Regions from separate parts of the Homo sapiens genome. Here region 2 is reported to be linked to region 1. Evidence: microRNA targets listed by miRTarBase, many of them from high-throughput screens and not tested one by one. Region 1 holds a microRNA gene; the other region holds the end of a gene's coding sequence.

Region 1 (15,544 bases):
CAGAGCCATTTAAAAACTATGAACCAACCGAGGAGGAAAAAAATTGGGATGCTTGTTTCTAAAAGAAAAAAATACTAGCTGTCTCTCAATGCCCAGTGCACTAGTCATGTTGCCTAGCATCAATTTGTCTTATTCTCTGTAGTATCTCTTACTCCCAAATAGCCTGGTTACTACCATGGATCTGATGGATTTCCATCACCAGAAGGGAGCCTTGAGTATCTCCTTCTCCCAGGTTTCAATTATAAGCTCTGGCTTTTGCCAGTTAGCATGTTTATCACCATGAGGCTGAACTTGATAGCACATGACTACAAACCCCAGGGGCACTAAAATGAAAGCATTTGCATATAGCCTTGATGAGGCTGGGCATAAGCGGTAACCACATTAAATTGTTTCTCTCTCAAAAACCTTCCATGGCTTCTTATGGCCCAGGGGATAAAGGTCAAAATGTAGCATTCTATTCAAGGCTCTCTGTGATGTGGGTCTAGCCAATTTTCTCAACCCACCACTTCCTTATACCTAGTCTCATTTCCAAAAATTCCTCTTTCCTATCTCTGTATAAGGGAGACAGCCTCAGAGCATCAATTTAATTTAACATAATTACTGAGCACCTATTGTGTGACAGGTGCTGAGCATATTAAGATGAAAAAGACACGACCCTTGCGGTACAGGTGCTCATAGGCCAATGGGCGAGTAAGACACAGAAATGCAGGGCTCTACCATAAGGCAGAAGTCCTGTGGCTTCCCTTGTTTACTTTGTTGTCATTTAATGCTTGCATTTCCAGTTGCATCCCTGAAAAATTATAAGCACCTAGAGGGCAGTACAAAGAAATATCTGTCTTTGCACCAACCTAAGCCTTTGAGCCTGTACGGAATATAGGACACTCCTCCTCCACAGACACTAGGGGGCAATGGTAACCAATACCATGGTTTTTCCTGGGTATATAGTGGGGGTGAGTGCATTTGGGAATGTCTTGGGTCACGGCCATCAGCATCAGGCTAATCCAGTCCCTTCTTCCTGGTATGTGGCCTGACAGTCAAGTTTCCCACAAGGACTCTCTGGGGATCCTTGGGGGAGATTCCTGGGTAAAGAGCAAGTCCAGTTCTAGTGCCCTCCCCCAACCCATACCGAGAAACTGCTCCAGCCCAATATCCTGAGTCCAAGATGACAAAAAGGATAGTGACCAAATGTGCTTCCCCTTCTTTTACCTGATAAATTTGCATCTCTGTGTTTCAATTCACCTCCCCAATACCTCCCAGTTGTTGGAAAGCTAAGACATATTAAAATCCCCTCCTCTGTACCCTTCCCTCATCTTTTGACTGGTACCCAGGATCCATGATTGACCTTTGTCCACTTGCCATGAAAACTTCTGACATGATTCCTCCTTTTTTTCTAGAGCATGTCTACGAAGCAGCCAGGTAAGAAAGTCTCTCCTCTTCCATTTTTGACCCCGTCCCTGCCCTCAATTTTGATTACTGGCAGGAAATGTGGAGGAAGGGGGGTGTGGCACAGACCCAATCCTAAGGCCGGAGGCCTTCAGGGTCAGGACATAGCTGCCTTCCCTCTCTCAGGCACCTTCTGAGGTTGTTTTGGCCCTCTGAACACAAAGGATAATTTAGATCCATCTGCCTTCTGCTTCCAGAATCCCTGGGTGGTAGGATCCTGATAATTAATTGGCAAGAATTGAGGCAGAAGGGTGGGAAACCAGGACCACAGCCCCAAGTCCCTTCTTATGGGTGGTGGGCTCTTGGGCCATAGGGCACATGCCAGAGAGGCCAACGACTCTGGAGAAACCATGAGGGTGGCCATCTTCGCAAGTGGCTGCTCCAGTGATGAGCCAACTTCCCAGAATCTGGGCAACAACTACTCTGATGAGCCCTGCATAGGACAGGAGTACCAGATCATCGCCCAGATCAATGGCAACTACGCCCGCCTGCTGGACACAGTTCCTCTGGATTATGAGTTTCTGGCCACTGAGGGCAAAAGTGTCTGTTAAAAATGCCCCATTAGGCCAGGATCTGCTGACATAATTGCCTAGTCAGTCCTTGCCTTCTGCATGGCCTTCTTCCCTGCTACCTCTCTTCCTGGATAGCCCAAAGTGTCCGCCTACCAACACTGGAGCCGCTGGGAGTCACTGGCTTTGCCCTGGAATTTGCCAGATGCATCTCAAGTAAGCCAGCTGCTGGATTTGGCTCTGGGCCCTTCTAGTATCTCTGCCGGGGGCTTCTGGTACTCCTCTCTAAATACCAGAGGGAAGATGCCCATAGCACTAGGACTTGGTCATCATGCCTACAGACACTATTCAACTTTGGCATCTTGCCACCAGAAGACCCGAGGGAGGCTCAGCTCTGCCAGCTCAGAGGACCAGCTATATCCAGGATCATTTCTCTTTCTTCAGGGCCAGACAGCTTTTAATTGAAATTGTTATTTCACAGGCCAGGGTTCAGTTCTGCTCCTCCACTATAAGTCTAATGTTCTGACTCTCTCCTGGTGCTCAATAAATATCTAATCATAACAGCAACTTCAGTTGTGTTGGTCTTCTCTCACAGTATGGTAGGACCTACTAAAAGTAATTAAAGTGAGACTAGTTAAGATGGCTGGGGCCCGAGAATATGGATGTCACTTTTGCTTTTTTGGTCTTTCCCCTTCCCACACATGCCACTCCTACTTCACTCCACTGGTAAGCCCAGCTGGAGAACAGTGAATACTTGATTAAACAGTACTCCCCTGGCTTCCATTACCCAACCTGTCATCCTGCCAGGTCCACCTGGATGATTCTTCCCACATCAACTGGAAGCCTAAGAAAGAAAAAGTCTTTCTGTCTCAGGGGACTATGAATGCAGAGATGAAGGGATTTCCTTCTTTCCCAAGTATGGATGCACCACTCCCAAGGATTTCCACTTCTTTGAATCTTAAAATCCTGGGGGTAGTTGCATTTTTCATATGTTATCTTCTTTAGCTCCTGGCCCCTTCTTACAATGTGAGGTGGGGATAAGAGCAAGAAAGCCTTTCTCTTCAAGGAGGAATAGGGCTAGGAGTGTGTGTGTGTGTGTGTGTGTGTGTGTGCGCACGACAGAGAGAGAGAGAGAGAGTTTGTATGTGTACATAAGTTCCTACACCTTTAAATCAGGCTCCGCTGTGAGGACCTGTTCTGACCCAGGTTGACACAGTTTTATTTTCTCGATGTAATTAATGTCAAATCAACTTCTGCACTCTTCAAGGAAGCTGCCATGTTGCTATTTCTGGTTCCCATGCAGCCCCTAGGTCAGCTCATGTTTCACAAGGAGCTGCTCCCCTTTTGCAATGATTACAGAAGTCAAAATAGTACACGAAAGTAACAAAAAGGAGTCCTCCACTTCACCGCCACCCAACATGCCAAATCCAGGGTAAAAACCTCAACATTTTCCTCATTCCAGACGCTAGCTTCTCCTAGTTGGCGAAAGGAACAACTCTTTCTTCCCCATCGTGCTTACAAGCCTCTGAAATAGGGCCTCCACCCAGTGGAAACCCCAACTTCCTTCATGAAACAACTCTGCGTCCAGACCCTACAGCCTTTGAAAATACCCATTATCTTTCCCTACTACCCATAGAAAAAGTGAGTTTTAGGTGTTGGGAAGAGAATCCTGGTTGCATTTTCACTGGTAAAAGGAGCCACACATCCAGGGACGCTGCTCCATAAGAGCTAAGGACTCCCAGGGATATCTCAAAGTCATTAATCTTAAAGAGCCTAGAGATCACTGATTCTAATACTTCCGTATTGGAGATGAGAAAATGAAGCTCAGAGAGGAACAAAAACACAGTTAGTGGTAGAAAGGAGACCAAAAGTCAGGCCTGTGAACTCCTCAGTGCATATATTTATTGCAGCATCTGGATCTTCTTTGCCTCAAAACTTAGAATATTTTTAAATACAGGACAAGCTAGTAAAGAATTCCTATGTAATAAAGATAGTCCACAGCTGCAGAGGCTAAACAAAAATGAGATGATAACATGTGACCTTTCTTAGGCAGATGGCTGGTTGGGGAAAGTAGATGAATGAAAAGAGGAAAAGATCTCCAGAAGAGCGGGAAGGTATAAAGTTTCTCTAGGACAGTTTCCCAAATCGTGCTTCATTGGACATTGACACAGGAGAAGGCTGTGGGGGAAAAGAAAATTCATGATCAGATAGGTATGGCAAATGCCTCATTCTATGGTTTCCTCTTTGAGATTCTCAATGCAACATTAGACTATTAAAGGCTCTGAAAAATCCTACAAGAAAACACCTGTATAACCTTGTGTGACCAAGTAATACCAAAATTTATTTGCCCTCTGAGTCTGCTATTTTGCCCTCTTCCTCCAGCCCTTGACACTGTTTCTCAGGAAGAAAACATCCTTCATGCTGGCTACTACCTCATATGCTCTATAACATTGTGGTGTTCACAGTTTGAATTTTTCAAAATCCAGGGTAGAATTTGGCCCCCAAACCTAAAGCTAGTGGACAAGAGGAAAGTCAATCAATCAGTAAATATTTATTATTTTCTGTAACTAAAGTACTGGGCTGTGGTAGGGGAGACAACAATCAAAGACATAGCCTTGTCTTCCAGAAGCTCACAATCTAGTTGGGAATTCAAGAATACCCCTTAGAAAAGTTCATTGACAATTTACGAGGTGCTATTAGACAGTAGGAGAGAAAGGCATACATACCAGGGCCCAGGGAAGAAGAGCTTTGTGAATGAAGAAGGAAAAAGTGTAAGTTGACTTTCAAAAGTCTCTGGAAACACTGGACTTTAGCTGGTCCAGGAAATATAGGGAAGAATTGGATAGGCAGGAATAAATGGAGAAAGTGTTCCTACAGGAAAAGACATGTGGAAAAGGGGAGAGGTAGGCAAGATCAAGGAGTGTTTAGAAGGCAAGACTGAGTATCAAGAAAGTGAATTTCTAAGCCCTGCTTACTCAGATAAGCCATTAGGCTTGTGTGAGAATGCTGATGTCCTAGATAGGAGACTCTGGGAGGGGAATATGAAGGAAGAAAATAATAATGAATCAAAGAGCACTTCCATTCCTGGACACTTTATACATTTTCAAGACTATTGCGCCCCCATCAGCACTCTCATGGTGTGTGTAGACACAGCCCAGGGCTGTATTTCCCTGAGATGCCACACTTTTCCCCTGGTGTCCTCAGATATAATGCCTCAGTTCCTGCAAAGTCACATAAAATAACTTGTGAGAACTTGGTGCTTGGTGAGCATCCTTGTATCCAGCTGGCAGTCCATTCGTCATATCCCATCTGCCCTGGCCTAGAGCTGGTAAGCATGTGCCGCACTTGGGGTATTTGACAAACTGACACTCTACCACATGGAGTGTCCAACTCAGCTTGTCAAATACACGGAGCGTGGCACTGCAGGAGGCCAGGCCAAGAGCTTCTGTGGGGAAGTGAGATCTTCCTGGGAGATGTGACCCTAGAGGGAAAGAGAGAGAAAGGAATGATGAAGTCACACCCTTAGCCCCGGGGATCTTGCTCAAAGGACCAACCAAAGCACCAGAATAGGGAAGTGAGCAAAATAGGCATAGGGTTCCTAACCAGAAGAGAGATCCTGAAGATAAGCAGGTAAAGCCCGAGTGACACCCAGTGCTCAGCTGGAAGCTCATCAGGCCTGAGTCCTGTAGCTATGGCATTTCTAGGGGTCCCAAGCTTCAGTGGGTTCCTCTATGCAGCAGAGAGGGGAAAATTTGGTCATCATCCTGCCTCCCTGACTTGAGGAAAGTACCAGACCCTAGAGTCAGCATCCTTGCTCCCTCTTCTCAATTCTCCCAAGCTGTGTTTTCAGTGTTGTGGTTATGCACATAGGCTTTGAGGTTAAACATGAGCTTAAATCCTAGTTCTTCCATTAGCTAGTTAGGCAACCTTGGATACATCATTTCACCTCTCTGAGCTCAAGTTTTCTACACCCACAAAATGTATGTAAGTATAATACCTACCTCATAAGGTTATTGTGAGAATGACAGGAGATAATGCATGTAAAGCCTTTGGTTCAGTATTCAATACATAACAAATGCTCAAAAAGTAGTGGTTGTGTGACCAAAATGAAAGAAAGAGCTATTGGCAATTGATTTAGCAGGATCTGGACAGGTGTGACATTGATTTCTTGTGGTCTCAGCCTTGCCTAACATGATCCTCTTGTCCCATAGGGACTCAAGAATGGCAGCTATTAAAGTGCCCTTAAAGATCATCTAGTCTCACTCACTTAGGTTATAAATGAGATAACAAAGGCTCCTGTTGGGGAGGAGACTTGTAAAGTTTATACAATAAATTTTTTACAGTTCAGCAGTATGCCTTATACAGCTTTCCTCATTGGTTATTTTGCCTCCCTTCTCTGTATATCCCTCTGGGAAAGGGAAGACACATCAACAAAGAGGGCAAAAACAGGCAATAGCTTTGTAATGCAACATTTGGGATCACTGAACCCACAAGCCACCAGGGCAATAAGGAAGCTGCCAGGAGCAGGGTCAGGTCTGAAACTTCTGGGAGAATTCCCTTGGCAACAATCAGATCCTGTTGCTAAAAATCCCAGGTTGCTGGTGTCAAATTACTGCCCTTACCAGCTGTGGCAGTTGATCTGTGAGCAGGTAGCTGGTCTACATTAAATATTGTCATGAAAAGTGGCAAACATCACAAGGTTACCAGAAATGGTAAACTGCCCCCATGAGGCCGGAAAGCCCTGTCCCAGCCCAGGTAAGACAGAGGGATTCAGCCTTGTCTTTCAGCAAGAAAACAATCAGTGTCTTTTCTTGCTCTATTCTTTTAATTGAATGTTAAGAAGGTAACATACTCCTTCAATTTAAGTTCTGGCAGTCATCTCAAAACTAAAGCTCTTTCACTCCCTCACTTCCTTTTCTACCTACCCAATTCAGCCTAATCCACCCAGCAGCAAAAGCAGCAGTCATGGTCACCAAATATGGCATGACAGAATCGACAAACTTGTGTTCTAATGCTGTCTTGGCCATCAACTAGCCAATCATGGCTTGGGCAAGTCTTTCTTTGGGTTTCAGTTGTCTTCTCTGGAAATGAGAACAAGGAGACTTACCTACTTACCTGGCAAAGTTGTTGGAAAGTGTTGCTAAGCTTTCCAGAGCCTCCCACATAGGAGCTCAAAAGGACCTTGTCTCAGCCCCTGGACCTATGGTTGGAGGCCAGCCAAGCAAGCTGATTAACAGAGTCTGAGTTGGGGATGGCAGGAGAAAAAGAAATGGATTGTTACCTTTTTTGTATCATTACACTCATTGGCTGTCAGCTCCAGTAAGAAGACCTAGATAAGCTGGAGGTGTTCACAGCCTTTTGAATGCACTTTCTGACTTTATTCACCTCCAGAAAGGCTGGAAAGGAGGCATGAAAGGGGCTAAAAATTATTAGTACTTTGAAATTTGTGGAGCCTTATAGACAACATTGCTTCAGTATTAATGGAAGGAGTTAGTGGTTGAGCTGAAACTAGACTGGTATGCCTCTCCAATGGAGTGTATGTAAGAAAATCACATTCAGTTGAGAAATGTTCACCAGACCCATAGAAAGAAGACATAAATATCTATATGGGATGATATTAAGGGAATTTGAAAGCTCTTCTCTTGGTCTGTTATATTACTTAGAATAACATCATTTTTCCCCATATGAAATGCAAAATCCTCTACTGAAGAGCGTCATCAAGCCACTATTGTTGATGCAAAGGATGGGTCAGTTTTTATGGAGGGAATTGGAGGGAATAGACCAGAAGAATTAGGGGTAAGTAGGTGTCTAGGAATCTCTGAACACTCAGAGTGAGCCAAGTACCTGAAAGAAAAATAGAAGAAAAGAAGAAGTCCTCAGGACCATGCCTAAAAATCCCAGACTGCCTCTAGTATGAGCAGGACCTGTCCTGGGTCAGTTACAGGACAGGTCCTGCTGCTTGATGTCTCAGTCCTCCTAGGATAGAGCAAAAAGAGGACTGACCTGGGAGCCCAGACCCAGCTGTGCTACAGATTCTCTGTATGACTTTGGGCAAGTCCCTTTCTTCCTCTTTCTGGACCTCAGTTTCTTCCATATGTACCTAGTCTCTAAGAGTCTTTCAATTTTGAATCTCTAGGAGTCAAAGATTGGACTAGAAAAGAGGCTTTCATCTTTGAGTCATGCCTCTCAGAGAGTGCTATATGGATTACCACCAGCACTCTCCTCTTGAATGTGTTCAGCCCCACCCACAGTTACATATGCAAAGATTACTCTCATCTTCTTTCTTGACAGAGGGCTGACAATCATGAAAATTAGGAATCTAATAACCATGGGTCTCTAGACAGCATCTATCTAATCATTCTTTTCCTCTTTTTACTTTTTTATTTTGCAAAAGGGGTGAAAAAACTGTGTCCTAGATTGGAGAAAGGACTTACCCAAAGATACACATTGGGTAAATGGTAAAACCAGGACTGCTACTCAGGTTTCCTGACTCCTGGGTCCAAAGGCCATTCCACTTCCATGTGACTATCTCCTAAACATCCTGATTGGATAGAAAATATCCTATCCCCTTTTCCCCTCCATTAGAACCTCTAGGATAAAAGGCCAATGGAAGCCTTCTTCCTCCCACCTTTGACCTTAATCCCTGAGGAGGGTCTGAAGAGAATGGGATGGGCAGATCCAAGCCACCCTTGGCTGCCATGGACTCTGCCCCAGCTTGAGAATCCAAGAAGAGAGGGCAAATGGATACCATACCTGTCAGTGGAGTGGTGCCTTGGTCATGGAGGGGACTCTGATTCCCCAGTGCTGAGCCAACCTGCAGGGGCCAGATGGAATTGGGCTTTCTGCCGTGAGCAAGAAGCTTCTGTGTTTTGAAGGGCCCTTGGTGTCTTCAACAGGAAACAGAAATGAGGAAGATAAGACTGAGGTTAGCCAACGGAAATCTGGATGCAAAATGACAAAACAATGCTGTTGTGAAAGGGTCTGCTACTGCAGCAATAGTAGCAGGCCACTGCCCTGCCTCCACCAACTCCCAGCTGACCTTCAACAGACACTAACTTTCCAAGCTGCAGAGAGAGAGAGAGTAGAAAGCACCTGGCTGCCCTAGGCTCTGCCTGTGGGTCAAGGAGGTTTTCCCAGAATAATTGAGGGAAACCTGGAATACCAGAACTGAGACATTATCTAATGAAAAAACCCGTAGTCAAAATTGAGAAACAGAGCCTCTGAGGGATAAAAGGAAATACTCAGTATCACAAAGCAAATTAGTGGAAAGCTGAAATTTAAACCCATCCCCATGGACTCCAAATCACATGTTCTTTCACTCTGCCAGAATGCCTCCTGGTCCTGGAATACCATTTTACTTCCAACTTCTCTCCTGGCATACAGAACCAGCTACATAATTTGCAAGGCCCAGTAAAAAATGAAAACGATAGGCCCTTTATTTAAAAATTAAGAATATCAAGATGATGACAGCAGAACATTAAACTAAGTGTGGGGTCCTTCTAAGCATGGAGCCCTGTGAAGCTGTACAAGTCATATGCCTATGAAGCTGGCTCTGGGGCACAGTTATGACCACAAGCCACATTCTGTCATCTTGGGGCTTGCTGAAGGAAATAAATAAGGAAATTCACATTTATTGGAGTACTTATGATATTCTTTCATGTGTATTATCTAATTTATTCAACAACTCTCTGGTATGGTATTATTATTCTTATTTATAGGTGAGGAAACTGAGGCACACAGAAATAAAGTGACCTGTCTAAGGAAACAAAACTAGAAAATAATAGAGAAGGCAGATTTTTCACTCAGGTCTAACTCCAAATGTTGAGGTTTTCGTCTACTTTCCCACATTGGCTACAAGGAAGGGAGAAGAAAGTAGTTGACTTTGAGAAAGAAAAATTAGTGCCAGACCCCTAAGTTCAACTGTGACCTTCAGGCTAATGAGGGACATGAAAGGTGTGAAAAGAAGGTGGATGGTTTCTTAATGCCTCATGTTTGCAGTCTCCTGGAAGTCCCCACTAACAGCCAGGAAGATGATGAATTCCCATCATGCAGTGCCCTCCACCATGAATTCTGATGGCATGAAGGATGGGAGGGGCAATGCTTTCAGGTTATACTTTGATAGCTTTCAATGACTGCAGTGCCCAAGTCACAGTCCTCTGTCTACACTAGTGGAAGTATGGCCCTGAGTGATAGTCAAGCCGTGGTAAATAATCTTTTCAAGCTATGTACATTCTTATATACTCAGGCTCAAAAGAAAGACCACATTCTGCGAGCCAAGAGCCCTGGGCCCTAGTCCCCACTCTACTACCTCCCTGGGCATTAGTTTCTCCTTTAATCAACAGAGGTTGGACTAAATGGTCTTGGAGACCACTCCAACTCAAACATTCCCTGGTTCCTTTGTGGCTCTTCGTTACTCACTGTGGGCTTCCCCATGGTTGCAGGACCTGAGGCTCTGTGAAAGCCTGAAATAGGGATTCACTTGCACTAACATCACTCTGTAGAAAACTTCCTTCTACCAGAATAATTTATTGGCTCAGGCCTCAAGACCCCAGATCTAGCTTCTAGAAAGATTCAGTTCTTGTTTCTTTTGGTTTCTGACTAAAGCTTGGAGCGGAAGTAGGGTAGTCCTGCGGGCACTTTGCTAAAATGGGACCCCCTTCTTCCTACGCATACCATAGAGATTAAGTTTAGCTACACACGTTTTTTTCTTCCCTATCAATTAGGGTACTCTACTGGCCTTTTAACAGGGGTTTCTGGAGACAATGTGTTTACCTAAAGTAGTAATTAATGGTATCTATTTTGAGTCCAAAGACAGGGCAATAAAAGAGAGCATTAGGAAACAGAAGGCTCTGAAAATCATACTACCTATGCATATGGCCTGAATGCGAGAAAAGGGAACTGTGCTCAGAGTTCCTCTTTAGCCCACAAACACAAAGTATGCTGGGAAGGGCCAAGTTTCCAATAACAGCACAAAGGGGCTTCTTCTTTTTGATCTGTTGTCCAGGCTTCTGCAGAGAGCAACCAAAAGTCACAAAGTTTTCCCATTTTGTATGATTTCTGCCTTGCCTGTGCTTGTGAAGGGAGATGAGAAAGAAGGGAAAATAGTTGACAAGCGGAGCAAGCAGGCAGTGCTGGGGTCCCACACTGCAGACACACTCATTTGTTTCCGCAGTACTGGAATGGAAAGAACACTGAATCAGAGTCCCTGCATCTTAGACCCTGGGTTATAGACCAAGCTCTGTAACTTATTGATTATGTGACCTTGAACAATCACACACAGCCTGTCTGAGCCTTAGTCCTCACATCAGATTGAAGGATTCTCAGGCTAAAGGGAAATGGAAGACAGGTGTGCACCCCAAGAGCTATGTCACCCTACAGAATATGATAAGTAATTTGACAAAGTCATGAAGTGCCGTCAGATACGTATATAAGATTCTCCCAGGGCAGAAGATGAGAAGGTGATGGTAACTGGAAAGGTTCTCAGAAGAATAAGATTTTGGCTACATCTTAAGGGATAGAGAGGAAAAAAATGATGCTCACTGTCTCTGGAAAGCCTTCTCTGACAACCACCTGCAAAATTAGTTGCTTCCCACCTTGCCCTCCTCTACTCTTGAAAAACATCCACACAGCACTTAGGTGTCAGTCTCTCCCAGAAGACCAAGCACTGCCCAAAGTAGGAACTATGTTTGATCTTTACTGTCTTCTTAGGCCTAGGAATAAACTAGTTATCCCAGAACTGTGAGGTGAATAAGTGAATGAGTCAATGCATAAGCAAAAGAAAGAGACCTCATAGCCCAATGTCCCCACATTGCTTAGCTTACCCAACCTCCATGAAGGAGCTGAGAAGCCCCCACCCTTCACTTTGAGTTTATCTTCCTGTTCACTCACCCCCACCTCCTTTCAGAAGACTTTCAAGAAGAGGCCCCAGGGAAAATTGCAAAGCTAAGGCCACTTCCTGTGCAAGTGGCTTGTGTCCACACACTCTACCTCAACCCTAGTGATTGCTATGCATAGGATTGCATTGGGGTTTCCTCTGAAAGGAAATACAAAGGCTGATGCAATGTGTAGGGCACCCGCAGGCCAGGACTAAAGAACTTTTTGTACACCTGGGCCTAGGGACAGAGGTTTCACTGTGAGGCTGCCACAAAACAGTGACACTGACAAGATAAATGGCAGCAATTAACCCAATAACTACAGCTTAAGTATATTCAGCAAGGGTGTGTTGAGCACCTACTGGCTACAAAGCTCTATGCTTGGCAAAAGGGGAAAAAATAAACATACAACAGAACAGAAATATACAACAATCTAATACAAATGTAATGCGAGCCACAATTATTATAATAACCACATGAAAAATTTTTAAGTGAAACTAATTTTAATAATATATTTTGTTTAGCTCAATACATCCACAATGTTATTTCAACCTGTAAACAATGTAAGTATTTGTTAATAAGATATTTTACATTATTCAAAATGTAGTATGTATTTTATGCAAACAGTACATCTCAATTTGAACTTGCCATATTTCTAGTGTTAAATTGCCATCTGTGGCTAGTGGCTACTGTATTGACCAGAACAGGTATAAGACATGGTCCCTACCCTCTAGGAATTCACAATCTAGTCCAGAAAACAGAGTGCTACATAAGCATGTTCAAAAAATGAGTACAATAGTGGAGGTGCATGTATGGAAAAGAGAACTGTACTGAGGGTCAGGAGATCTGGGCTACAGTCTTTTCTCTGCCACTAATTCTCTGTGTGACCTTGAGCAAATCCCTCTCCCTTTCTGGGCCTCCAAATTTCCATCTCTACAATAAGTCTGATTAAATTTATTCACAAAACAAATACAAGTTGAATGTGTTCTAAGTGTCAGGCATGGTGCAAGGTACTCAAGATGCAGAAGTGAAAAAGACATATAAAACGCTTGCCTTCTTGACATATACCGTGTGGTGGAAAATAGCCATTAAACAAATTTTTTAAATATGTCAAGAAAGGGGGAAGATCAGAGAGCAGGGAGAACACGTAACAGGATAACATAATCCACCAGACTTGGATAGGTCAAGAAAACTTCTCTAAGGAAGTAACTTTTAAAGTGAGACGGAAAAATGAAAAGTAGTGAGCCAAGTGGATAATGGGTGCAAGGCAATTCCAAGCAGAAGAAGCAACATGTATAAAGGTTCTGAGATGGAGAATAATGTGGCATATTCCAAGAAGATAAAAGGCTGGTATGGCTTGAAAAAGAGTGAGCAAAGGAAAAAATAGCACAAAGCAAATAGAAGAGTTAAGCCGGGGGCCAAACTAAGAAAGGACTTGTATGCTATGTTGGGCGTTTGAGACATGAGAAGCCAGAAAGTGTATATATGTGATGCAGTGCCCTTCTATATTCAAGCCTAGGATTTTAGGGGTCCAGACTATGGCAACAAACAGGAAAAAAAAGTTAATTTCAACTGGTTGGATTAGAGACTTCACAGAAGAGGCCGAATTTTAAAAGAGCCTTGAAGGATAACAGGATCAATAATCAGAGAAAGGCATTTCAGGCAGAGGAAAGAACCCAAGTAAAGGTGCAGAGATAGGAAAGAATATGGTGAGCTTGTGTGAATAGGGAGACTACCGATACAAAATGGCAAATATAAGCCTGAGAGCATTTTTAAGTATCTATAGATATCGTAGAATAATAGTAGCCCAAAGGCCTATCCAACACACCAAATGTGCTCTGGAGGAAACCTGGCAAAGAGGTTCGACCTATCAGGAGATCCATTTTGTACTGGAATAACAATAATTAACAAGTATTGTGAGCTTACTAAGTGCCAGGCACTGTTTGAAGCCCTTTACATATGTTAGTTTATGTAATCCTAACAACAACCTTATGAGGGAGATACTATAATTACCTATTAAATGGCAGATGTAGGATATAAATATCATGCAACAATTTATGAAAGGTAGAAATTTTGGAGCAATCTACAAAAAAATATACAATATGTCTCTGGCTGGAAAATGTCAAATTCAAGTCAGTTATCATCTCAGTCTTTAAGGGCAGTTTTTTCCAAGAAAACCTCATTAATTTCCAATTTATGATTGTTAGATAAGTCTGAGCTGAAGCTTTTGTTTAGCTTCTTAGAAAGACAAAATAAATGAAGTAAATAAAATAGGAGTTCCAGGGAGTTGTTTAAAGACAGAAAACCAAACTGGTTCTACTTACTACCCATACCTCACTCCCACTTAGAGTCCTTCAGAACCTTCCATCTATGGCAGAAATAACTGAAGTGACCCTAATCAACCATTTTAATCTATTTCCTATAATGGCCCACCTAAAGGTTTTTACTAAGCAGTAGCTGTTTTTGTTTTGTTTGTTTGTTTTTTTCTTAAAATGAGTAAAGAGTTTATCTGGGCCAAGCTTGAGAGCTGCAACTCAGGAGCATAGATTCGAGTTGCCCTAAATATACACTCCCTTGGGAAAAATTTTAAATGGACAATGAAGAAATGAATGAGGAATCAACTTTCAATAGCCTATTGTAAATAGTATATTTGGAAGGAACAAACATGTATTTATTTAAAATATATATTCTCACTCTAGTCTGTCTCTCACTCCCACTATTCACATCACACCTGTAGTCCCAGCTACTGGGGAGGCTGAAGCAGGAGGATCACTTGAGCCCAGGAGTTCAAGGCTGTAGTGCACTATGGTCACCTGTGAATAGCCACTGCACTCCAGCCTAGGCAACAGAGGAAAACCTTGTCTCAAAAAATAAATAAATAAGAGGAAATTCTGTCATTTTCAACAACATAAATGGAATTGGAGATTACGTGAAGTGAAATAAGCCAGGCACAGGAAGACAAATGCCACATAATCTCACTTACAGGTGGATTCTAAGATAATGAAAGTTATAGAAGCGGAGAGTAGAATGACGGTTACAGAGGCTTGGGGGTGGGTGGAATGGGGAGATAATTTTCAAAGGGTACAAAGTTTCAGACAGAAGGAATAGGGTTTTTTTGAGATCTATTGCACAGCATGGTGAATACAGTTAATAATAGTATATTGCATGTTTCAGAATTGCTAAGAGAGTACATTTCAAATTATTCAACAAATTATAAGTATTTGAGACAATGGATATATTAAATTTAATTACTCCACATTGTATTCATAAATCATAACATCACTTTGTATCCCACAAATACAATTATAAATTTACAATAAAAAATTAAATGAATATATCTATATATCTGTATGTATCTATATATCAGTATAGAGATATTTCCTAATTCAGACTGGGGTAGTTGCCCGTGATATCATTGACTTGGCACACACAGACTATTTTCATCTTCTTAGTTTGTCTTCTGAGTAAAGGAAGGGCAAGAATTGTGCCTTTTGGGAAACAAAAAGAAAATTTAGAACAGACCCTTGAGCTTTCACCACAGCTAAACATTTGCTAGAACTAGATTTGGCACTGATTCAGGAATCAGTCAATCCCTAAAAAATTGATACCTCATGGGGTTACAAAGTGGAATCCTGAGAGCTCCTGTAAAGGCCAGATAATGCAAGGTAAGAAGCAGAAAAGCTTCATATTGGCATCAGAAGGGACACTGCCTTCTATTAT
Region 2 (15,278 bases), not on the chromosome of region 1:
TTGAAGCATGTGATCTTTGTACCCACTCCCTGTTTTACACCCCCTCCCGTTTTGACACCCTTAATAAAAAACCTGCTGGTTTGAGGCTCAGGTGGGCATCACGGACCTACCGATAGGTGATGTCATCCCTGGTGGCCCAGCTGTAAAATTCCTCTCTTTGTACTCTTTCTCTTGCTCAGCTGGCTGACATTTATGGAAAATAGAACCTACGTTGAAATATTGGGGGCAGGTTCCCCCATTACATATCTTCAAAAGGTTTAATTTGAGGTTGGCTAGGATTATATTTTACATTATTGTTAGGTGGGTAAACAAGGCTCCCCTCTGCTCAAGTCCTTGAAGGCCCAGGACCCCCCAGTTTCATCCTCTTACTATGGGCATGACATTCAGTTGTGACGTGAAGAGCAGTGTGGACCCGGTGGAAACACCCAACCATGAAAGTTAAAAGCTGGAGCCTTTTAGACACATGGAGAGCACATCACAGAGGCAACGCCCCTCACAGGTTGGAGGGTTTGGAGTGCAGGGGAGGGATTTGCAGTAGTTGGGACTTGGCCAGGAGGAGGGGCTGTTAGGATGGCCCCTAAGTGTTTTGAGGGAGGAGAGGCCCACTCAAGACTGTGGGGCCCATGGACAAAATACAAAGGCCAGGTCCTCACTCCCTGCTTAGTCTCTCTGGCACCAGAGCCAGGGGCTGTTGGGCACCCATTCTAGCCTTGAGGAGGTGAGGGTCCAGGCTCTGTGTGTGGGGTGCAGCAGGTGGGGTAGTTATTGTCCACACGTGTTCCGTCCTTTTAGGCTGCCTCTTTCTGATCTTTGTACAGACAGAGCAGACTTTTGATGGGGCTTTTTGGTCTATGCCTGTTGGTGCATCCAGGTTGCTGGTGCCTTCAGCTCCAAGTCTGGGATGACAAGGCTAAAAGAAAACCCAAGGAGCTGCTGCCATGTTGCTTCTCCGGTCCTGAGGCCCCAGCTAGTGCGACTTCTCTCCTGCGTCATCTTATATTTGTTGTTTTGTATGTAACATCCAGGGTTTTTGTTGAACTTAGGAGGGATGGGAAGAACTACATGACTTCTGGGAAGCAGAGGTCCACACACTTGCTTTTATTGGTGCAGGGAACCCTGGTCTACCTAAGTGATTTATAAGCCCCTTACGAGGAGGGGCCCGGCCCGCTGTGCCCTTCTCTGTATCCTACAGTTCTGGGCTTGAGCCTCAATCCAGTCCACCGTGCACCACGGCCAGAGCACTTGCTGCCCTGTGGGGATGGCCGAGATGCTTCCACCTGGCCCTTGTGACGCAGACAGGTTTGTGGTTTTGGTGGAAGGGAATGCACCATGCGGAACAGGGGTGGGGCTCCCGGGATGGGTGGCTGTGAACTGGGACTTGAAGACAAGCGGCTCTCAGAGGGAGGTGAAATTGAACCTCAAACTCTGTGAGTCAGTGGTAGAGAGAAAGAGGATGCTTGGAACAGTAGGTGTCACCTCTCCCGGGCCAAGCCTCACTGTACTCTGCCCGTGTGTGGGACAGGCGGCCAGGCTGTTTCACACATGGACACACACCATTTCTTACTCCCCTACCCTCAGCATCTCAGGCCTCACCTGCCCTGCATAAAACCTTAGTCTCTTCTCCTGGGCCCTGCTGCTCGTGGCTCTGAGCACAGGGCCTGAGCATAGGGCCTGTCCTCAAGGAGGAGCATGTGGATGGCCACCTGCACCACAATGTTCTTGCAGGCATGAGTTTGCCAGAGGGGTTGCCTTCTTGAAAGTGCATAGATTTGTCATCCAAGGAGACCCCTTGGGAAGAGCCCGTATCATGGAAAGCAGGCAGAGCACTGTGCCTCGGACACTGCCACACTTCCATCTGCGGCCCCATGGATCCACAGTCCCTCCCACTTAGAATGAGCAATCATGAGGCAGATGCCTTCAGTGAGGTTTAGCTTTTAGTCCAGGGAGAGCCCACTCTGTCCCAGGCCCTTGGTTAGTCCAAACCTGCGGCAGCAGCCAGACCAGATGGACTCTACAGGTAGTCTCTCCTCATCACGGGAAGAGGAGCTCTGTGCCACTCACCCTCCGGCGTCTTCTCTTGAACTTTGTGTTGTTGATCCCCACACCCCGGGCAGCATAACTGCCACCTCCCCAGATGCCCCCGCACTGTTCCTATCATATCCTGTGCACATCCAGTCTCACGGTGTTCTCCATGTAGCTGTATGTAAAATTCAGTCTGTATCTCTCCCACTCGCTTCATGGCTACTTCAGGGCAGGGACTTTATCCACTCACCTGTATCCCTGAAGTCACTGAGTAAGGATTTGCAGTGTCTATGAGGTGCAGAGAGGCCGGGTGCTGGCCAGGAACCAAGATCCCATTTCTATAAAACAAGCACAACCATAGCCACATGTACGTGTGAGTGTGCAAGAAAGGACTTGACAGACATGCACACCCAGCCCCGGTGGTCACAGCTGGGAAGAAGTATTACAAGTGTCATTTTATTTTTTTATTTTTGTGGGTACATATTAGGTATATATATTTATGGGTTACATGAGATTTTGATACAGGCATACAATGCATAATAATCACGTCAGGGTAAACAGGGTTTACAGGTATAGTTTTTAAAAGTCATCTTATTTCAAAAGTCCTTCCAGACCTTACTGTGTCAGTGGGTAATAAATTATGCTGATAACTGATGACGGATGGGTTCCGTCACTGAGCAGCATGTGTTGAGTGCTGGCCAGGATGCCAGCTCCCAGGAAGACAGTCCTCATGCTGGGGCATCCCGGCTCCAGGGTGCATTAACCCTGCTGCCTGGAGCATGTGCCAGAGCCTGTGCTAGGGCCTTCTCGTTGTCTAGGCAGCCATGGGCTCTGCTGGGTTGAGAGATGTGATGCCTGAGCATTGGCCTCCTCTCCAAGCTGCCTGAATGTTGCCTCCATGGTGGAAGTAATTTGTCTTCGAGTCCTTTCCAGAACTGTCAACCAGCATTCCCCATCTCCAAAGCAAGTCATAATGGGCCCTGCCTGCTCACTGAAATGCAGAAGCCAGACTGACCCCTGGAGCCTGGAGGTCTCTGCTCTGAGGAGCGCCTGTTTATGGCATTGCTTCTGCCTGGGCTCCCGGTCCTACTGGCTTTCACTGGCAAAGCAAAGATGTGAGCCTCCCCAGCCCAAAGAGCAGGCTGCTGTGGATGCCACCAACTCCACAGGACCAAGCCTCACAGAGCAAGCCCTTCCCTCTGCTCCCCGAGACGCCTGTCTTACAGAGTCGTGTGTGTCAAGAACAAGAGGTTTCATATAAAAATTAATGAAACAAGATTTTTTTTCTGACATGAGGAAAATGCATTATTCAGAGTTTCCAAATGCCACCAGTCTCTTCACTTAAAATTTTTACTTTAGACTAAGCTCCTTACGTTTCTGCTTGATTAATTCAGTGGACTTTCATTTTATTTTGCAGTAGCCCAACTTTAGGGTAAAGTTTACACACTGCCACAAATGTGTCATGCCACAGGCTGGCAGGTGTGGGCAGGCGGATCCCACAGGGTCCCTGGGAGACCTGAGGAAGAGAGCTGCACAGCCCCCATGGGAGGCTGGGCATATTGGTGAGCCTTGAGGCTCCATGTGCCTACAAATAGCACTGACTGTGCGGGACCTCACAGAAGGGAAGCAGCCATCCTCTGATCCCACTCCTTCCTCTACTCATCTCCCCTCATCAGCTGCTAACCAAAAACGCAGGGAAATGCTCACACGCCCGACTGAGTGACACATTCAGGGGCCTTGAATGCTGGCTAGAAGACACTGTGGTGGGGCTTGCGCATAGAAAAGAAGAAAGCAGGAAAGGTCTCTCTTAGTTGTAATTAACCTTAGAAAAAAACGAGCCTCCGTCTTACAGTTGAGAGAAGGAAATATGGGAGAATGGGCAAAGCTTAAGAAGTCCCCAGTCCAGCCTGCTGCCTCCCAGAAGGCTGAGGCACTCGCCAGCCCTCCAAGCCCTAAACCCTCCACTGCCATTGATTCTCTCTGCTGCAGCTGCCTGCTAGCACCTTTTAATCTCTGAGTTCTTTGGTTTGGTGCCTGTGGAGCTGTAAGGAGAGTGCTAGAGAGTTAATTTTAGGGGCTGCACTTGAGCTTGCCTGATTTCAGCTCAGCCTGCAGGTCTGGAATGCTCCTGTGCACCCTGGGTGCTTCGGCGTCACGCAGATGGAACAGCAGTGCCAGGTGTATGACGGCCGAGGGCTCAGGCGGGGCTCGGTTGTGTGTCCCCTCTAACTGTCCCCTCTCCCGCAGAGGAGGCCGAGCGTGGCAGCCTCGGCGCGGGCTCGCTGTGCAGGCGGAGGCGGGCGCTGGGCGCGCTGCGTGATGAAGGACCCCGGCGGCGTGCACACCTGGACATCGGCCTCCCGCGCGACTTCCGCCCCGTATCATCCATCATCGATGTGGACCTGGTCCCCGAGACGCACCGGCGAGTGCGGCTGCACCGGCACGGCTGCGAGAAGCCGCTGGGCTTCTACATCCGCGATGGCGCCAGCGTGCGCGTGACCCCGCACGGGCTGGAGAAGGTGCCCGGCATCTTCATCTCGCGCATGGTACCCGGGGGCCTGGCGGAGAGCACCGGGCTGCTGGCTGTGAATGACGAGGTCCTGGAGGTGAACGGCATTGAGGTGGCCGGGAAGACGCTGGACCAGGTCACGGACATGATGATCGCCAACAGCCACAACCTCATCGTCACCGTCAAGCCCGCCAACCAGCGCAACAACGTGGTGCGCGGCGGCCGCGCGTTGGGCAGCTCGGGACCGCCCTCGGACGGCACCGCGGGCTTCGTGGGTCCCCCCGCCCCGCGCGTCCTGCAGAACTTCCACCCCGACGAGGCGGAGAGCGATGAGGACAACGACGTCGTCATCGAGGGCACACTGGAGCCTGCACGTCCCCCCCAGACCCCGGGCGCGCCCGCAGGCAGCCTCTCCCGGGTCAATGGCGCGGGCCTGGCGCAGCGGCTGCAGCGGGACCTGGCCCTGGACGGCGGCCTCCAGCGGCTGCTCAGCTCCCTGCGGGCCGACCCCCGTCACAGCCTGGCGCTGCCGCCAGGCGGCGTGGAGGAGCACGGGCCCGCGGTCACGCTCTAGACTCCCGAGAGGCCCCCAAATCCTAGCTCCAGTTCCCCGGTAAGGACAGGGACAGGACCTGCAGACTGCATCCGCTCATTTTTTGTTGTTTTTGTGACCACAAAAACAACGCTGCTCTTTGTTTCAACTTCCGGATATAAAAACACAAGTATTGCCTATTTTTATAGAATTTCGCCACAGAACTTAAAATGAACGCCTGTAGAGACACTCTATACCAGGCCTGAGTGCAGGTCTTGGCGCCTTTGCAAAGTGATAGAAAAGATCTGACCAAGTGCAAAAAAATGCTTTTTAAAATTTTTACAAATACTTTGTTTTTAAAGTGAAGCTTTAAAATTACTTTTTTAAAATAGTCAAATTCATGTTTTTAAGTAAGTTGGCCCATGCAACATATCTCAGCATTCTTGCTGTGCTCTCTGCTGACTTGCAGGCGAGGCCGACTGTGCTGATGTACGTGACAAGAGGCTGGTTTTTAATAACGAATGCAGCCAGGTGCAGTGGCTCACGTCTGTAATCCCAGCACTTTGGGAGGCCTACGTGGGCTGATCACGAGGTCAGGAGGTCGAGACCAGCATGGCCAACATGGTGAAACCCTGTCTCTACTAAAAATATAAAAATTAGCCAGGTGTGGTGGCAGGCGCCTGTAATCCCAGCTACCTTGGGAGGCTGAGGCAGGAGAATCGCTTGAACCCGGGAGGCAGAGGTTGCAGTGAGCTGAGATCGCACCACTGCACTCCAGCCTGGGTGACAGAGCAAGACTCTGTCTCGGGAAAAAAAAAAAATACACCCAAACCTGTCCATGTACAACCATGGAGATGAATTCCAGATTTTCACACTGTTCATAGTCATAATTCGGTTGGGACAGGAGAGCTCCCACCAGCACACTTATGGCACCCGCAGCTGTGGAATTGTTCCGGGGCTTTTTTTTGTTTGTTTTGAGACATAGTGTCTTGTTCTGTCATCCAAGCTGGAGGGATCTCAGCTCACTGCAACCTCCGCCTCCTGGGTTCAAGCAATTCTCCTGCCTCAGCCTCCCAAGGAGCTGGGACAGGCACATGCCACCATACCCAGCTAATTTTTGTATTTTTAGTAGAGATGGGATTTCACCACGTTGGTCAGGCTGGTCTTGAACTCCTGACCTCAGGTGATACGGTCCCCCCTCAGCCTCCAAAAATGCTAGGATTATAGACGTGAGCCACAGCACCAGACCAGGGGCTATTTTTGTGACCCACATAGGTGGCCCATTCAGCCTCAAGGGGAAATCCAGGGTAGGAAGCAGCAGCTCTGCTGGACTGGGCTCAGCAGTCCCATTTGGGATGTAAGCCTCTATTGCCTCTAAGATGACCCTTTTCCTGTGGGTTGACTGACTCTGAGGGCGATTTCGGAAATGTTTTCAGCAGAAATGAAGGATAAGCATCGCACATGTCCAGCAATGTCTTTGAGAATGCAGTCATTTGCACGTGAGTTCTCATCTTTGTTTTCTGAAACAGACGTTTCTTTTAGTAAGTCACAATACATGCTAATTTTCATTTCTAGAATGGTCACTGGCAGTTCTCACTTTTAACTATAAGAAGTCACGTGGAACTTAGTGATTTTTAACAAATACTAAATTCATCCTCACTTTATGTTGATCTTCCAGCAACGTTTATATATTTAGTAATTTTAAAAATTCCTATTTGATACAATTAAATTTTATATAATGTGTTTTGCTTGAATAAAATGTTACATTTATACTTTGAGAACTCTGACCAAATCTTTCATACAGATACAGGTAAAGAAATATTTTTCTAGGTTGTCGGAGCTGCGTACCTCCCGCTGCTTCTCCTTGTGGTCCAGCACCACCTGCTGGTCAGTGGCAGAACTGTCCTGACTTCGTGAACATGGAACTGCTAAGAGGGAAAACTGCATCTCAGCATTTTCATTTTTTCTGAATATTAAGTGAAAAGCAAGTTCTATTTTTAAGAAATAGCTTTTGCTGAGGAGTTGTGAATTCCTGCACCTGTGTTTGATGTTATTTGTATGCAATGGATTGCTGGCCCTTTGTTCCTAAGCAAGAGAAGACCAAAGATGCTTCCCCATGACCTCTCCGGTGAGGATCCGCACCCCCCGGACTTGCTCTCTGATGAAGGGCATGTCGTTCAGTGCCCCAGCAGTCAGAAGCAGTTTTTGTGGAACTAAAACTAATAATGTTACCCTCACAAAGGAAATGTTCTTTTACTAAGTTATTGCTGATTCTTGAATGTCTGTTATATAACTGGGTCGGCTATCAAGAAGGAAGGTTATATTTCTTATCACATTTTAAGTTGTTAAGCAAATGTGAGTTTTTTTTTAAGAAATGAGGCTTTCACTGAGATTTGTGTGCTATTCATAATTTTAGGAATTACTGCTTAGAACAGCTGCTTGGGTGTATTTTTCTACACAGGTCTGTACTTCTGCCACTTTCTCCTTTTAAAAAAACAAAACTATGCATATTATGTATTAAAGTTTTCTTGGTTTTATATATCAGAGAATAAAAACTTTTTTGACTTTTGAGTAAACAAAATGCATGAATATTTCACCTGTGTTCTAAGTGGAAGAGAATACCAGAGATAAAGTAATCCCTCAAAGAGAATGACAGATTTATCAAGTGCTTATCATGTACCATCTTTCACGGAATCCGCACATACTCTCTGAGGGACGCAGATGAGAAAATGGGCCCAAGCTCATCAGATAGACAGATGACAGTCCAGAACCCTCTCTCGAAGTCTTTTTGAAAAAGCTTTTCTGAATATTTATACAGCACACAGTCCTTCCTAAATGTGCCCTGGTTGGCACGGTTTTCATTAACACTGTCGTTCTGGCAGCCATCAAGAGTCAAATTACAATTACAAATTCAGTTACTCAGCAAATTACAGATGTGATCACATTGAGCACCAGCATCCTGGAAGCAGCACAGGTACCCTACTAGGAGCTTCACAAGTACTCGCCACCTGCTGAGTCCCCACAGCAACTCTGGACTGTCGGCAGCTGGACAGTTGACCCCCACAGTCTGATGAGGCAGGAGTCAAGTGCCAACACTGGGTACACTCTCCAAAACTAATGTCCGCTTTCAGCAGGATGAGATACGAGGCTTAAGTGTAAGCAGAGGCCACATGTGCCCCTGGCTGCCAGCCGGGTGTGGCCTCAGGCTTGGGTTTCCCTGACCTGATAGTCCACATCATATGGCAAATTTATTCACAATTTGGTGAGGGTATTTAATATTTTATGGTTTCACATAAAATGATCACAGCGAGTGAGAGTTTTGTGGCAAGGTGCAAAAGTATCTAAAAAATGCCATGATTGTTGTGAAATCTATATTAGCGAAAATCTAAATTTTCCAACAGAAGGACATGTAAGTTACCTGCACCTCTGTGGAATGTTTTTAAAGGATGCAAGTATGAACTAAGTGTGGTAGGGTCAACTTTTGATCCTTGCATTTTAAAAGTTGGCACTAGTATGAAGTTTTTTATGGCAGCACTAAAACTCACACGGTCTGAATAGTTTATTAAAATGGTGTAAGGCTGCACTAATGGCCAGTTCCCAAATGCACTAAGATACTTAATGTGTACCATTCCTACTGAAAGTATGAACCTACTTAGCTGATTTCCAGCTTGCCCATTTCTGGAAAGGTAAGCTGCTCAGCGTGAGCTCAAGGACCTCCTGTTTCAAACAAACCGGAGGGTGAACCCTCGTCCCCTCGAACAGCTTGTTTAAAGAGCACCTGCTGGTCAGGCACAGTGGTGCATACCTGTATTCCCAGCACTTTGGGAGGCCAAGGCGGGCAGATTGCCTGAAGTCAGGAGTTCGAGACCAGCCTGGCCAAGATGGCGAAACGCCAGCTCTACTAAAAATACAAAAAAATAGCTGGGCATGGTGGCGTGCACCTGTAATCCCAGCTACTCTGGAGGCTGGGGCAGGTGAATCGCTTGAACCCGGGAGGCTGAAGTTGCAGTTAGCCAAGATCACACCACTGCACTCCAGCCTGGGCAGCAGAGCAAACTCCATCTCAAAAAAACAAAACAAATAAAAGAGTGCCTGGATTACCCCAGAGGCTCTGATTTAAGGAACTTGGGTGGAGTTTGAGAATTTTCATTTCTAACAAGTTCCCAGTAGATGCTGATGCTGCTGGTGCAGGAATCACATTTGAGAACCATTGGCTAATCCCCCAAGCTTATAGGACTTGCCTATAAACTTGGACTTGATGACCGAGACCCTATCCAACAAGCACATAGGATTTCCCTCTAGGATGTTATGTGCTGGTATCAATATTGTAATTTCACATCAGGTAACCTGCAAAAGTATTTCCTAAGTGCACAAATACTATTTTTTGAATTATCTCCCACCACCACCATTCTGGCGCCACATCTATACACCTAGTCTTCTTAACGTTCTCCTTTATGCTTTGAACATCTCCTATTTATTCCTGAAGACACTCCAAATCAATATACAAATTCTTTTTTCCCTCTTACCTTTCCTCATTTATCTTGTGTTTTATTCTCCTTTATCCTCATGGGGAAAAAAAAAACAACTTGAGGGTATTGAGAATGTTTTCAATACTGAGCCATGTTCCCAAGGAGAGACATAACTCTATAACAGTAATAAAAAGCAAACATGATTCATCATTGATCTTGCAACCCAGAAAATGAGTGCCATTTTCCAAATTTGCTTTCCCAGGGAGCTTTGAAGATAAACACATTATTTCTTGACTTGAGTCCCCTTGCTCTCAAGACAAAGTGCCAGGCAAGAGCTCTTTTACAAGAATTGTACTTCCAGTAGACTGTCAGGTGAGCTATTAAGCAACATGGCCGTGATGACAGAAAAGTCTGTCTTACCACTTCAGAGCCAAATTACACACCCTATATGAAACCCATCTGAGGCCAGACTGCAGAGACCTAAACGTATAGATGAGAGGATCAGAGTATGGAACCTCCTTTCTCATAATAAGACTGCAGCATAAGAAGGGCACAGTGCCATGTGATGGGACTGCAGAATGCCAGATGTATGACAGGATCAGAATCCAAAATTGACTTCCACAAAGCCAGACCACAGGGAGCACCACACACGAATGAGGATAATATCCAAAATCAACTTCGAATTAATTAGACTCCAAAGACCAGCACACACTGATGAGAGAATCAGAGATGGAAAACCACCTCCACAGAACTGGGCCACAGAGATTACCAGTCATAAAAAGAGAACTGCACAGAACCAGACCGCAGAAGGCACCACATACATGGATGACAGGATCTGAGCCCCAAATCTACTTTCAGTAACTGGGCTGCAGATCCAGAACCAGGCCACAGAGGGCACCACACCAACTAATAAGAGTACCTGAGTCCCAAATCTACTTCTGTGTAATGGGTGGTAACAGGCAACAGGCGAAACACTGAAACCCCGACTTCATGCCCTCTGCTTGCCACGACGGTTTTGCATTTGTTTCCCATGCCAGCATAAGCTCTTTATTCAGAGGCTGTCATATTCTCTCTGATGTTCAGTTACTAACGATTACTAACGATCCTACTTAGTGTGGATGAGTAAACCAATGTTTCCTTGGAGTTTATGCTTCAGAAACAGGCAACAAACAAAAGATAACACATAATTCATTTATCAATAAATGACAAGAAAAACAGAGCCAGAAGGAGGATATTGTAAATTTTTACCATTTACCATTACTTTTCAGATGAGAAAATGAAGGCACACTAATATTTCTAATATCACACAAATACTTTTCAGAGCCATAATTTGCACCTGTATGTTCTGGCTTAACTGTTTTTCTCACCCCATCTATCAGTTTGTAGAAATGCAGGCTGGGTGCAGTGGTTCATGCCTGTAATCTTATCACTTTGGGAGGCCAAGGTGGATCTCTTGAGCTCAGGGGTTCAAGACCAGCCTGGGCAACACAGATCTTGTCTCTACAAAAAAATGTTTTTATAATTAGCCAAGTACATTCTCTTTGCCTAAAATAAAAAAAGTAGTCCCAGCTACTCAGGTGGCTGAGGTGGGAAGATCGCTTGATCCTAGGAGGTCAAGGCTGCAGTGAGTTATGACTGCACCACTGCACTCCAGCCTGGGTGACAGAGTGAGACCCTGTCTCAAAAAAATAAATAAATAAAAATGCAATGTTTATCCACACAGTCTGGCTAAGGAAAGACACCATCTACCACCTTTGGTTTATTCGGGAATGCATCTTCACTGTCTATTCTAGCCAGCAATAGGCAGACTCTGCCATCCAGTGTAAGTGACTTCATTCCTCGGTCAAACATTGGAATTAGGCCAGGCGCAGTGGCTTATGCCTGTAATCCCAGCACTTTGGGAGGCTGAGGCAGCTGGATCACCTGAGGTTGAGAGTTCGAGACCAGCCTGACCAACATGGAGAAACCCCGTCTCTACTAAAAATACAAAACTAGCCGGGCGTGGTGGCACATGCCTGTAATCCCAGCACTTTGGGAGGCCGAGGCGGGCGGATCACAAGGTCTGGAGATGGAGACCATCCTGGCTAACACAGTGAAACCCCGTCTCTACTAAAAATACAAAAAAAATTAGCTGGGCATGGTGGTGTGCGCCTGTAGTCCCAGCTACTCGGGAGGCTGAGGCAGGAGAATGGCATGAACCTGGGAGGTGGAGCTTGCAGTGAGCTGAGATCGCACCACTGCACTCCAGCCTGGGCAACAGAGCGACACTCCGTCTCAAAAAAACAAACAAAAATTTGGAATTAAAAGTCTGCTTATATGTAAAGGGTCACTCAAGTTACTGTTGAAAATATGGAAGGGAATATTCCCTGCTCAGCACCACTGACCCATAGAAAGACAATCAGTGAGAAACGGGCAATCCTTTCTCTGAGCATCCTGTTTCTTCACTTTCTTGGAATCATGATTTTTGTATTTGAAAGTATTTTGGACAAAGAATGTCTTAGGTGAATGCTACTACAATAGTAATCTAAGCAGAAATCTTACAGTCATCCTTACTAGTAACCATTTTTTTATTTGTATAAATCCGTGGGGTACTAGTTTTGGATACCCTATTCAGCATGCATACACTAACGATAGCTGATGATCTTAAAAAAAAAAAAAAAAAAAAGGTCCGTGCATAATTGGATATATGCACACAACGTGTGCTGGTCAAGTGAGGGCTTTTAGGGTATCATCACCCAAATAATATACATTGTACTCCTTAAGTTCTCATCACCCACCCACCTCCTACCCTCTCACCCTTCCAAGTCTCCAATGTCTGTCATTCCACTCTCTACATCCATGTGCACACATTTTTTAGCTACCACTCATGAGTGAGAACACATGATCTTTGTCTTTTGGGATCTGACCTGTTTAAGATACCGACCTCCAATCTATGCATGTTGTCACTAAAGACATTTTTATTCTTTCTTAGGACTGGATAGTATTCCACTGTGTATATATTTATCCCACATTTTCTTTATCCAGTCATCCCCTGATGGACACTCAGGCTAATTTCTCTATCATTGCTATTGTGAATAGTACTGCGATAAACATAAGAGTGCATGTATCTTTTTGATATATTGATTTCTTTTCCTTTAGGTAGATACACAGTAGGAAGATTGCTGATCAAATGGTAGTTCTATTTTTAGTTCTTTGAGAAATCTCCACAGTTTTCCATACAGGTTGTACTAATTTACATTCCCACAGTGTATAAGAGTTCCCTTTTCTCTGCATCCTTGCCGACATCTGTTTTGGGACTTTTTAAATAACAGCCATTCTAACTAGGGTAGGATGAGATATCTTGTGGTTTAATTTGCATTTCTCTGATGATTAGTGATGTTGAGCATTTTCACATATACCTGTTGGCCATATGTATGTCTTCTTTGGAAAAATGTCTATTCATGTCCTTTGCCCACTTTTTAATAAGGTTATCATGAAAATTATGCATGGACTTTTTTTTTTTTTTTTTTTTAGCTCATCAGCTATTATTAGTGTTAGTGTATTTTATGTGTGGCCCAAGACAATTCTTCTTCCACTGTGGCCCAGAGAAGCCAAAAAAGTTGGACACTGTAGCATGAGTGTTTTGCACACTTAGAAACATGCATCACCTGCACCCTTTTGTCCAGACAATTTCTGGACAATTCGTACAAATGATGTGACTTACAACGAACCCCCGATTTTCTTCCGGGGTTCTGTAGCCTCCTGTGTGCCTATGGGACCAATCCCCCAAACCACACGCAGGAGTCAGGCTCAGGCAAGCATCCTGGTGGACAGCACCTCACACATCATCACAGCTCACTGCTGGAGGAGTCAGGAACATCCCTCCTGACTGCCCTAGGAGAGGGTGCTCACAACTCACACAGGCTTCCTGCAGCCTTTGCCTTGTGCCTTTTCCCCTTACAGTGTCCCCTTAGGAAGACTGTAGCCATGAGCAGAATGACTTCTGAGGCCTGTGAGTTCTTTCTGAAACTCACTAAACCTGAGGGTGGTCTTGGAGATGATCTTTCTCTCTCTCTCACATACAAACATACATGTGCACACACGCATTTACATCTCTATTGATTCTTCCTTTCCTTGTTTGTAAGAAACCTGCTCCCATTATCCTTAATATACTCATGTGCTGATCAGTCCCCTGAATGTAACCACCAACCTCCCGTCACCACCACCACCCTCTTCCCCACACAGGTGCCCTCCCCCATCTCCAGGCCCGATGCCCCTTCACAGCTACCTCTCAGCCTCCCAGCCCCACTCACACTGACAGGGGCCATTCTCACCTTCCCCAGGGGACCCTTCCTCACCACCCTGCTTGGCTCCACAGCCAACTCCAAGCCCCACCAGTTCTTCCTCTGCCAGTTGGAGCCCTCTTCGCTCTGCCTCAGTTTAGGGCTGAGAGGGAAGGAAGAGGATGAGGAGAGGAGAAAGGACGGCTTCTGAAGCTTCTGCACCTGTACTGCTGCACTGTCTTACCACATTTATTTATTTACTAGAATTATTTCAAGAACCTTTAAACTTACCAGACTCTGATCCCAGGTCCTGAACTTAACCCTGAAGTCTAATTCTGTGCCCCTAAACTCTTCAATGCTCCTCAAATGAGCTGTGCCTCTCATATGTCTATGTCTCAAAGGTATTTTGTGCTGTTGCTTGGCCTGAAAGGGACTGCTCTGCACTTCCCCTGCAGCTTCCCTTCACACTTGAGGTCGGCTGTGCTGCCTCCCTCTGTGAAGCCTTCTCTGCTCCTCCTGGAACATCTGCCTTCCCCCTTGCTCCTGTGTATTGATGGAGCACAGGATCATGGCTTTAGAGCTGGGAGCTCTTTGAGGGGTAACTCCATTTCATTCATGTTTTGTCCCCAGCATTGGGCAGGATCTGATGGACATATAGAGACTAAGCCACTGATGGTATCAGAACTAGTTTCAGGAAAGAGGAAGGAGAAATGATGGCTCACCATCCCATCTCTGCAGGCATAATGGCGGTCACTGGTCAGCCATGGGACCAAGGTAATCAGAAAACTCTATTAAAACTTGCTACATGTGGTGTTAAGGCTTTTTTCTTCAACAATTATTAAATATGAGTCTACACACAGGAAAAATAATACTTGTTTGCTCTCTCCTGGCCCCTTGCCTGCCCCAAAGCAGTCTCCTCACCTCAGGGTGCTGGTGCAGGGCAGCATCACCTCAGTGAACCACTCCTGTGGAGTACACACCCCAACACTTTCTGCTTAGCAAATGCAAGTGGTAGAGAAGAAAAAGCAAACTTCAAGAACATTGTTATGAGGCCAGAGGGGAGGAGTTGTCCCTGTCCCACACACTTTTTGTTAATTCCTTGCCCTTATGTTTCAAAAGTAACAAAAACATTAATTGCCTAGAACTTTGCTGTTGCAGTGATCAACAACCAATCAGATGACCCACTTTTTTTGAACTTTGATACTTGCACAATCTAGCAGCACCTAATTTCAACAATGACAGCAACAACTTTATATACAATAAATTGGGTAAATAGGGTTAATCCCTTTTTCCAACTGGTAGCACTGTTAAATGGGACACCACTTATATTTTTAGAGGACTAAATGCACATTCATTTTAGAAAATTTTTAAAATATAAAAACACAACAAAATCACTCCTAGTCTCACCACCCACATAAATACTTCATACTTGGGTCCTCCTGGCACCCCATTCATTCCAAATATTAATTAAAAGCAAATCAGTA

Evidence for each region. Region 1 holds the annotated microRNA hsa-miR-223-5p (CGUGUAUUUGACAAGCUGAGUU, at 5,341-5,362, opposite strand). A microRNA usually pairs through its seed, bases 2 to 8, with sites in the 3' UTR of a target mRNA and lowers its output. Matches are read on the target gene's strand: a 7mer-m8 pairs with bases 2 to 8, a 7mer-A1 pairs with bases 2 to 7 and ends in A, and an 8mer does both.
Region 2: miRTarBase lists PARD6G as a target of hsa-miR-223-5p. Seed matches in the 3' UTR shown: 7mer-m8 at 5,883-5,889.

What each region holds. Positions count from the first base shown.
Region 1 is chrX:66,008,713-66,024,256 of GRCh38, reverse strand. It overlaps MIR223 (microRNA 223), which reads right to left and starts at 5,387; the gene lies at 5,278-5,387. VSIG4 (V-set and immunoglobulin domain containing 4) reads left to right here. Exons shown (of 8, transcript NM_007268.3): 7 at 1,395-1,416; 8 at 1,757-2,519. The coding sequence ends at 1,994. It overlaps MIR223HG (MIR223 host gene), which reads right to left and starts at 8,796. Exons shown (of 3, transcript NR_170299.1): 1 at 8,706-8,796; 2 at 7,068-7,192; 3 at 3,831-5,433. RefSeq lists an enhancer at 10,938-11,007.
Region 2 is chr18:80,149,598-80,164,875 of GRCh38, reverse strand. It overlaps PARD6G (par-6 family cell polarity regulator gamma), which reads left to right. Exons shown (of 3, transcript NM_032510.4): 3 at 4,270-7,644. The coding sequence ends at 5,105. The region is part of intron 1 of PARD6G-AS1 (PARD6G antisense RNA 1); the gene reads right to left. Among named protein-coding and RNA genes, the nearest start is that of PARD6G-AS1, 9.3 kb to the right of the region's middle. RefSeq lists a silencer at 5,057-5,126.